Linked DNA regions of Homo sapiens: region 2 is linked to region 1. A link means that fine-mapping ties the variant in region 1 to the expression of a gene that starts in the linked region. Tissue or cell type: lymphoblastoid cells. Region 1 holds a variant in brackets; the other region holds the start of a gene. All regions are shown on one strand. Distances are from middle to middle. Region 1 has its middle 6.4 kb from the start of MARCKS. Region 2 holds the start of MROCKI (MARCKS cis regulating lncRNA promoter of cytokines and inflammation).

Region 1 (5,396 bases):
ACATAGCCCCTCAGTTCACTCGGCAAGCATTTATTGAACTCCTATCATGTAGTAGGCATTTGGGATATGTCAGTGAACAAAACAGACAAGAAGTCTTTATAAAGCATACATTCTTGGGTGGGGAGAAAAGCACAAGTTAAAAAAATGTAAGTCAGCAAATTATATGAAATGTTAGAAGTCTGTAAGTGTTGTGGGAGAGGTGGAGTGGTGGGGGAAACTAAAGCAAAATAAGGGAGATGGGAGTTCAGGGGAGAGTTGAGATGTAATTCCATATAGGCCGGGAAAGGCCTCATTGAGAAGACAAACTTCGAGCAGATTTGAAGAGGTGAGGGAATTAATAATGCAGATGGCTCACTCAAATGCTTCTAGCCTAACAAGAGAGGGGAGAAGCCAGCATTTAACAATGAGATCACAGACTGAAATATAACTTTAAACCGTCACATGTACTTTTAACGAAAATAGGGAGTACATGTGACCATTTGAAGTTCTATTTTGTGCTATAAGATAGTATAATTTCATTAGGAGGGTTAAAGAAGGCCTTTTGAAATAAGTAACATTTAAGTGGGAACCTAAGGGAAGAGTAGGCATTAGTCAGGTAAAGAGGTGAAGAGCTGTGTTCAGATGGAGGAAATAGCAAAGCCCATGAGGAGGAAGAGTTCAGCATGGATTTGGGAGGAAGGTAGAGAGATGAGTTAGAACATATTTTCAGATTCCTGTAAAACGTCTCAGTAGAAGAGTGAAGTTCACAGATGTAAGTCTGAAGTTCAAACTACAGTTTTGAATGTAAATACTGATTTGTGATCATTCCACATGAAAATATTTTTAGAAGCCAAGTCACAGGAAAATGCAAAAGATAAGAGATTACAGAATGATGCCCTGAGTAATTTCTGCTCTCAGAGGATCCGTAGAAAAGGAGCCAAGATGGCAAAGAAGACTGAGAAGGAATTCTCAAAGAGTAGACAGAAAGCCAGGAGAGTGTGGGGTCAGGAAAGTCAATAAAGACAGTGTTTCAAGGAGGAGTAGTGAGTTTTGTCAAATGCTGTTGAGTGTTCAAATGAAATACTGAGATGTTTCCATTGCATGTTGTAGGACAGAAACTACTGGATACAGGCTCCAGAGCAGTTTTTGTAGTATGTTGAGAGTGGAAGCTGGATTTCGTGTGTTGAGGATAAAATGGAAGATGAAGAAGATGATGGCATAGTCACCTCTTTATAAAGCTGGACTCAGTAAAGGTTTAGGGAGACAAGGCAGTAGCTGGAGAGGGCTGGGACGGGTTGAGCATCCCTGATGGGAACATCTGAAATCCAAAATCTGAAATTTTTGAGTGTTAATATGACACCACAAGTGGAAAATTCCACATCTAGCCTCATGTGAGGGGTCATGGTAAAAACACACATACATGACACACAGTTTATTCAGTGTCTCCAAGGAGAAAAAACATCCCCCCAGCCCCTGTCAGCTGCAATATATGTTTTCTTTGCACGTCCAGATTCCCCCATGCAAGCACACCACAAAGGGTACTAAAGTAGTTCAATGTACACAAATTTTTTTCACAATGTACATAAATTTCAATGTACACAAATTTTGTTTCATGCACAATATTATTTAAAATATTGTATGAAATTATATTCAGGCTATGTTTATAAGTATATTTGAAACATAAATAAATGTCGTGTTTAGACTTGGGTTCTCATCCCCAAGATATCTCATTATGTATATGAAAACATTCCAAAATTCAAAAAAATCTGAAATCTGAAACACTTCCGGTCCCAAGAATTTCAGATAAGGAATGCTCAACCCACTTAATGTTTTTTTGGCTTGTGTTATGCTGTCTTGGATGGAAGGCATCAGAGCACATTTAACTGATCTGGAAACTAATACAGTAGAAAGGAAAATGAAGATACAAGAGGAAAAGGAATAAAGAATGGAAAAACATTTCTGAGAAGGCAGGAAGGGATGGGGATATAGGGCACATGCTGAAAAATTGGGTTTTAAAAGACATTCTGCTTTTTAAAATATTCTGTAATGAGAGAACAAGAGGATGGCTATAGATTTGCTGGTGGGAAGATGAGAAAGTTTCCCTCTGATGGTTTCTATTCAGCTAAGAGGAAAGAAGAAAAGGGAGAGTTGCAGTTTGATGACCTTATAGAAGGTGTGGAATAATGACTGGGAGGCATAGGATTGAGACTTTTGGGCATGGTAAGACTTTAGAGCAGTAATGAGGGCCCATTTGAGGTTGATAAATCTCAAGGATGCTTAATCAATATATCAAATATATCTTTCTACATCCTCTTTAATATTACCAGCCATTCACTCTTTTAACCTATGCCCAATTTTGTTATATCTATAAGTCAATATTTGCACAAAAATAGAATATAGATTAAAAGACAGTGCTATTACAAAGCACAATGTCAGTTAATCCTATATTATTTCATACAGATATACATAAAGAGGAGGAGGGAGGGAAGATAACCTACTCTGTACCAGGGACAGCACTGTGTGAGTCCGCTAGGCTTGTGTTTCACCCTTCCAACAGAACCTGAACTTGTATCATTTTCCCATTTTACAGATTTGGAAATTGATGCTCAGGAAGGTTTGGAAAATAAAGTTCAATAGTGTGTTAGCCGTTGTTCATTGAAGTCTATCTGCCATCTAGGAATCCAATAAGAGCTCAAATGGTTGTAATAGGCACAGAACCTTATATGTAGTTGGAGTTTTTTTTTTAAATTAAAAAATAGAGACAGGGTCTCACTATGTTGCCCAGACTGGTCCCGAACTCCTGGGATCAAGTGATTCTCCCACCTTAACCTCTCAAAATGCTGGGATTACAGACATGAGCCACTGCCCCCAGCCTGTAGTAGGAGCTTTATTAGTTTTTAAAATTGATACTAAAACTGCAAGCTTCTTTACTTTTAGACTTTGCTTTAGTGCTCTTTATTAACTATCCAGTAGTACTCAAATAGAAAGATTCTTTCATAATTAGGAAACATCAGAGTCACTGCTTATCTGTCTGAAGAATCAAGAACTAACACATCTACAACAGGAGTGATGTTTCTGGCATGTTAGATCTCCACATGGTCGGAATAGGTGATCACTACAAAACCACTATAAAGAAGAGTGTATTTTTTGGTTATTGCTATTCAGGCACACCAATTGAAATAACCATACATATATATATATA[C/TAC]ACACACACACATGCACATGTATATACATATATGTATACACACACATATATACATATATACACACATACACATATATATATACATATACACACATACACATATATATATACATATACAAACACACACACACACTCAGATATATATATATTCTTTTTTTTTTTGAGACAGGGTCTTGCTCTGTTGCCCAGGCTGATCTAACTCCTGGGCCCAAATGATCCTCTCACCCCCTCCCCAGCCTCCCCAGTAGCTGGAACTATAGGCATATACCACCATGTCTGGCTAATTTTTGTATTTGTTGTAGAAACAGGGTCTCCCTATGTTACCCAGACTGGTCTCTAACTCCTGGGCTCAAGCAAATCTTTCATCTCAGCTTCCCAAAGTGCTGGGATTACAGATGTGAGCCATTATGCCTGGCCAAGATTTTTTAATATTTGAAAGAGTAATCAAAAAGTAGGACTTAATATTAGAGACAAATAAACAAAAAGTAGGAAAATCTTTAAAGAAAAAGTTTTCTCCAGAAATTTTGAATCAAAGCTTAACCATAGTAGCATTTCTCAAAATTTGCAATATTTATCCTCCAGGGACAGGCTGAAAACTTTCCATATAAGCTTTTGGAAGAATGGAATGAAGGTGGAAGATTGGGGAGGGCACGGGGATAATTCCCTTTCCAACTTTGTTCTCAGAGATAAGAGGCAAGTAAATAAAGAAAAGCAATCAAAGTTTTCATTAAAAGGATCAGGCGATCAGGTTCCTGGTCTTATAGAGTTACCTAGTCACTTTTCTCATTGTTCTTAACTGGCGGACCAGAAGTGGAGGTAAAACATTCACATAGAAAAAGTTGAATCTTCAGCATGATGAGTATAGGGACCATACAAGGGGCAATTTTTCATTGCTTCCTTAGTCATAAATACTTTCTGATATTAAAAAGGAGACTTAAACAGTGGCTGAAATGAGCTATTTGAACTAATCTATGGTTCTAGAAATTAAAGCATAAAATCAAACACTTATCTTTATTCCAAATAACAATGCACTTTTAGAAAAAGATGTATTAAACTCTTAGAAATAACTTGTTGCAATCAATAAATAGAAAGTTTTTATTAAGCTACTGCTAAAGTAGAACTTTAGTAAGGGCCCCTCCAGTCTGACGGACTTTTCAGTGCCTTCAACACTCTATTAGGTTTTGTGATGAGATGACTGGGAAGGATTTCATTTGCTCAGCAGATATTTATTAAGTACCTACTTTATACCAGGCACTGGCATACAGTGATTTGCCTCCATTACATATTTGAATCCCTACAGTAATCTTATAAAATAGAAACCATTACTCCCATTTTCTTTGTAAATCAAATCCCTGAGGCATAACATAACATGCTCAAGTTTATGCTGCTCATGAGAGTGGTCTGGACTGGGTTCTCAGTCCAGCTCTTGATAATTCCAAAGCTGTGACGCTGTTTCCCTGACTATATCATACTGCCTCAGATAAAGTTAAGAATTTTATGGGATGTTTCTAGTTTTTGTGAAGGTTACAAAAATGATCAAGATACACTAAAAATTGTCTGAAATATATTAAATATTAAACTTTATCTGTTGTAAGAGAAGTATTTAGGGCTACATCTGCAAGGTGGGAATTAGCATTCAAAGAAACACACACACACACAAACAGAATCTGACAGGTCAGATTCTTGAATCTGGAAACATCCTTAGTAACTTTATCCAGAATATTGTCATCACAAAACATATTTTTGGACAACTGAATAAAAACATAAATGGTTAAGTTGTGCCAAAAACTTACCTCTACCTTTCCTGGGGCAAAAGTGTGAGTGTTGCTTAGAGCAGAGTGAAGCTTTTTGGAATGTAGGTAAAGTAGGGTGTAGAGAAAGGGAGAGAATGTTACAGTTGGAAAGAGAATCCAGATGTGAGATGTGGCTGAGAGATGAGATCAGAGATAAGAAGGTACAGCCCTTCACAGTGCCACTGTGAGAAAACTGTAAGGATTCCTGGGATGGAGGGGACTCATGGCTGAGAATGTAGGGAGTGATGAAAATGTGACATTCTTCCATTAAGGCTACAGTTGGAATTTGATTTACATTTTGATTGTAGGTGTAAATACTTGACAGTTTTAAAATTTCAATCACTATTGTATATATTATTTCATTTAATAGCCACAGTAAATTCAGAGATCAATTAGATCAATTAGGTGAATTCCCAGTTATA
Region 2 (5,396 bases), 22 kb before region 1:
AACACTTAAATCTTCTCTGAGATATGAATTTCCTTTTTTAGGTCATTTTCTGTTATATTTAATTATGTTTAAAATCTTGCCTATTGCCTGTGTGCTTCTCAAGGGCAGGAAACCTGTCTTTTTCATGGCTGTGTCCTGAAAACCTAGCACAATGGATCATATATAAAACACTCTCAGTAAGTATTGATACCATATGAAATAAACTTTAGGCCTGCACTGGGTTCCAAAGATAAAGGCACTCTTTCTGACATCATCTGGGAGGAATTTGTTGACCACGAACAAAGAAGCTACATTTTGAACAAGCATGTTTGAAACTCTAGAACTTAAGGCTCAGCAATACAGAAATATTTTTGAGTCTTTTTTCTCCAGCTATATTTACTGTCTACCATGTGTGACTTCTCTCTCTTCTGATGCTAATTAATTAATACCCCACACGCCAAACCCTTATTTACCACCCTGCACACACAGATCTCCATTAGAAGTCTGGAATGTTGATGGTTGGGTAGGTATTTTAACCTAGCTTAACCTCTATCACAATAATTAATTTTAATTGCTTTTCACCTTGGTTACGTGATCCCCCAACTCCATGGAAATGATATAACCTTGTAAAAAATAAAAAATAATAATAAAAATCTTGACATGAGCTTCTTAAAGAAACAGACGTGAGATTTGACTTTAGCATTCAGTAACCAAAGGTATAAGATACCCAAAACAAAGGAAATGTGGTGCTTTCACTGCTTGTTTTTAGTGCTGCCACTTCTCTCCCAAGGAATGTCGCTGCCTTAAACTCTGTTCTGTGGCAGATACTTCCTGCCCCTATACATCACCTTCAGATGTACTATATGATCAAGATCTTTACCATCTGGCCACTCCTCTAGCTCTAGTGTTCCAAATGGCTTACATTTTTAATGGTTCTTTGTGATCTCCCTGATATAGAAATACAGGTATGCAAGGACATGTGCACTCATAAAGAGTCTATCTTCCTTCTTTGCATTCCTGTGTGCTTTAGCCAGAAGAGATGTTTTAGGATGGTGGTACAGTGAGAAATTTATGAAACAAGGGCCACTGGGCCACCAAGATGACTATTTATGGTTAAGTGGAATCCAAAAGGATGATATGGGGTATCTCTTTCTTTACAAGTAGTAGCCACTGCCATTGAACAAATATTTAAATAATACAAACAATTGTTAATAATTATTTAGCTCCTCTTAAATGAGTCACGTGTCCCCTTTCCATGTATAAAAACCGTATTTATACTTTGTGTTTCCCTTGTGCTACTCAAAAGATCACAATAAAAACATTCTCTTGAAAAATTTACTTAGTTTATTTCACTGACTTAAAAAAAATTTTTTTTTACTGCATTTTATGCTAGATTCACACATTTCACATGGTGGTTGAACATATAAGGAAAGATATATTTTTACCACGGCTTGATAACATTTCTTCAAGATGCTATCCTCACAACAGATTATATTTATTCAGAAAATTTGAAGTGATCTATTTGAAATTACCTCTAGTAGTTTGTTAAAATGTAACAGATCCATTTATAGACTTTTAAAAGATGGAATTTTTATAAAGGTACAGTTGTTTGTTTGTTTTTTAGACAAAGTCTTGTTCTGTCACCAGGCTGGAGTGCAATGGCACGATCTTGGCTCACTGTAATCTCCACCTCCTGGGTTCAAGCGATTCTCCTGCTTCAGCCTTCCGAGTAGCTGGGATTACAGGCGTGTGCCACCACACCCAGCTAATTTTTGTAAAGATGGGATTTCACCATGTTGGCCAGGATGGTCTTGATCTCCTGACCCATTGATCCACCCACCTCAGCCTCTCAAAGTGCTGGGATTACAGGCGTGAGCCAACACGCCTGGCCAAAGGTACAGTTATATGTGAGTTATACAATAGATTCCCAATAGGGTAAGACCCTGGGGGAGTAACATCACTAGAATCCGATGTGTCCATCTCAAATAGTTTTTTACTGAATTGATTATGTCTCAATAATATTTTGGAATCTTGATAAAAACTTACTTGGCTAAAGTATACCATTAATATAAATAAACAATATAAATATAATATAAATAATATAAATAAACAATGGTATTTACCATATTACCTTTACCATGTGTATTTGTATCCAAAACACACTCATTTATACCATATCAAGGCATAGCAACTCCAGTTTGTTTGAAGAACATTACTTGATAAACAGCAACGAAGACAGAAGAGTTGATGGAAATTCTGATATTACTACCACCTCCTTTCCCTACTATTGCCCTTGTAAAACACAGAAATAGTTTGTTCATGTGACCAAATTGAAGTCTTCTTTCACTCAGGAATATAGAATATCCAACATGCGTTGTGGTGCTTTAAAGATGGTCAAAATTCTTTGACATTATCTCATCAAGAGGTGGTGTCAATGTCCTTCTTTCCCAGAATCTGGGTGGGCTCAGAGACTGCTTTGACCAATAAAGCATAGTGGAAGTAAAACTGTGCCAGTGTCTCGGGCTCAGGCTGAAAGAGACTGGCAGCTTTCACTTCCTGTCTTTTGAAAGTCTCTTGAACTTCGGACCTGGGGGAAGCCAGCTGCCGAGTGAGAAGTCTGACTATCCGGAGATGGCGGTGAGTATAGAGAATTTCTGCTAGGTCTCCTGTGTTTCAGCCATCCCAGCCCAGGCACCACGACACATTATCAAAGGACTATCTTGGACCTTCTCATCCCAGCAAACATCCAATGGAGAAGAATGAAGACTCCAGGCATATGATCCCACTCTAGCCATCCCAGGAGCCCCCAGCTATCCAAACAACTACAGCTGTGGCCAAAAACATCGTGTATCAGGGACAAACTCTCTGCTTATGGCTGCTCTAATCCTTGACCTACAGAATCATGAAATTTGTGGATACGGTCATGATCTTGATTTTGGCGATGGTTTCACAGGTGTGTACCTATGTATGCTTATCAAAGTGTGCACTTTAAAATGTGCAGTTTATTATATGTCAATTATATATAAAGCTGTTCAAAAATTTAAAAATAATTGTTGTTTTATACGACTGAGTTTTCAGGTGGTTTGTAATATGACAATAGATAACCTGAACATGCACTTCCTATGTTTTATGTTTATTTCTTCCTGATATTTATTAAAATAAAAATATTATTAAAATACAAACTTGGCATATAAAACTTTACTAGGTATATTAAGTACTTTTTTTACAAAATTCAATTTGTTTTTATTAAATGTCTATAATCTAGACTATAGATTATACAGTCTAGATTATAATCTAATCTATTATATAGATATAATAGATTAAATGAGTTGGCTTTAAAAAATCACATTATGGATTATTATTGATAATATTAGTATTGTTTTTTACTGAAGTGAATTTCTTACCAGAACAGATTCTAGGCATTTGCACATTCACTCTTAAGTTTCTAGATCCAAGTCCATTCCCTAGAACATATTAGATATTCAATAGGTGTTTGGTAAAAATATAAATGAAATATGGAATAAAATCTAAACCTTTTCTTTTGTTTTAATATCTTTATCTAGTATATCTTAGTTTAAATGTATTGCAAATGATTTCAGGACACCAGTGTCTACCTGAGCTAGATTGCTCTCAAGTTTTAGTTTAATATTCAACCAAAAACGCACATTATAAAACAATGTACCTTCTTTTACAAAAAGTTTGCATGTGATGGAGCCAGGTCCCTTTGAGTCCAGCACCTAAGTGTCTAATCACTAATTCATCCTCGTGACCCCAACAGGAAATAGCATGACCTCAAGTCTAACTGACAGGAATGAGACCTACAGAAGAACAAAAAAGGAAGAAAAGTTAATAATCTTTTTTCTGTCCATTTTCTTCTTTATTGTAGGTCAGATGTACGTGATGGTTACCATTATAACTACATACTATGAAAGATTAATCAGTGGAAAAAAACAAGTTAAAGACACACAAAAAACTTCAGAGAATCAACTTCTGGTCAAAAAAGCCCTCCTTTAGCCAACTCTAAACCTCATTCAACCAATATTCTCTATAGTCTTAGAAAGCATTCAGAAGACATAATATTTTTTAAGGACTTCAAGCAGCAAATGGCAGAAGTGACAAGAATTGAAAATAGAGGAAAATTTTGTTTTGTTTAAAGAATTCTAATTTTAATAATGGGAAGTATGCATCCATATTTATGCCAGATTCATATATATGAAATATATATATATATATATATATATATATTTCATGTAAATGTACTTTTGCTAATGAAATAGGAATTCAGGACAATAAGAAGGTCTAGAGGAAGCACCCTTTATGAGTAATTGGTTTCAATGTTCGTATTCTTGATCTAAACAATAAAAAATCAAAACTGCATTTTCTCAATGAATATGTTTTTCTCTGTTTTAAGTCTCAAGAAGTTATGGTAGAAATGCTTTACAGAAAATATTTTTCAAGCCCGGCATGGTGGCTCATGCCTGTAATCCCAGCACTTTGGGAGACTGAGGCAGGCAGATCACTTGAGGTCAGGAGTTCAAGACCAGCCTTTCCAACATGGTGAGAACTTGTCTCTACTAAAAATAAAAAAAAAAATTAGCCTGGCATGGTGATGCACACCTGTAATCCCAGCTACTTGGGAGGCCGAGGCACGAGAATCACTTGAACCCAGGAGGTGGAGGTTGCAGTGGGCTGAGATGGCACCACTGCACTACAGCCTGGGTGACAGAGCAAGTAAGACTCTGTCTCAAGGAAAAAAAAATCTTTTTCATATGATAATACTACAGCTAGAAAGCTAGAATTCTTTCTTACTGATTGTTATATTAAGTCCTTCCTGTTCACTAAACATTACTAAGCATGAAAAAAATCTTTGTGCTGTGGTAAGAATGCTGAAAAATGTATAATTCAAATCCAGATATATGAATAACAACTTCTCACTATAGTTTGGAAAATAAACTAGTATTGGTATATTTTTTGTTTGTTTTAAATAAACTCATCACTGGAGTTCTAGTAAATTTTGCTTCTAGACCATGTGAAAATTTTAAATTAGAAGCTATATAGCAACTAATTTTTTAAATTAACATAAAAATTCTCATTTAAAATGTTCTGAAAATTTTTAAACATATGCAGTTGCTGTAATTTAATACATTCCTCTGTCTTCTACTGTCACTTAATACATTTCTCTGTCTTTTCTGTATCCCTTGTTTCCCGGCAGTAACTCATGCTTTCAAAATATCAGGAAGCAAATGAGAAAAGGAAAAAAAGACATTCATTGTATATGGTAAGCCAAGTAATGAACTAGCTAGATAGTACCTCAGACACTGGAGGAAAATGGCATTGTTAACATAATTGTTTTTCCAGTTAATAATTAATATTGTATAATCTGACCTTAATCTATAGGCTTCTTTTTCATTATAATC

Evidence for each region. PIP is the estimated chance that this variant, and not a neighbour inherited with it, causes the effect.
Region 2: MROCKI starts here. The variant in region 1 is the best candidate, but not a certain one, in a credible set for the expression of MROCKI in lymphoblastoid cells (TwinsUK, PIP 0.81).

What each region holds. Positions count from the first base shown.
Region 1 is chr6:113,848,204-113,853,599 of GRCh38, reverse strand. No RefSeq gene overlaps it. Among named protein-coding and RNA genes, the nearest start is that of MARCKS, 6.4 kb to the left of the region's middle. The variant C/TAC (reference allele first, on the strand shown) is at 3,182.
Region 2 is chr6:113,870,530-113,875,925 of GRCh38, reverse strand. It overlaps MROCKI (MARCKS cis regulating lncRNA promoter of cytokines and inflammation), which reads left to right and starts at 2,579. Exons shown (of 3, transcript NR_038863.2): 1 at 2,579-2,932; 2 at 5,192-5,257. LOC124901382 (a long non-coding RNA gene) reads right to left here and starts at 2,521. Exons shown (of 3, transcript XR_007059716.1): 1 at 2,103-2,521.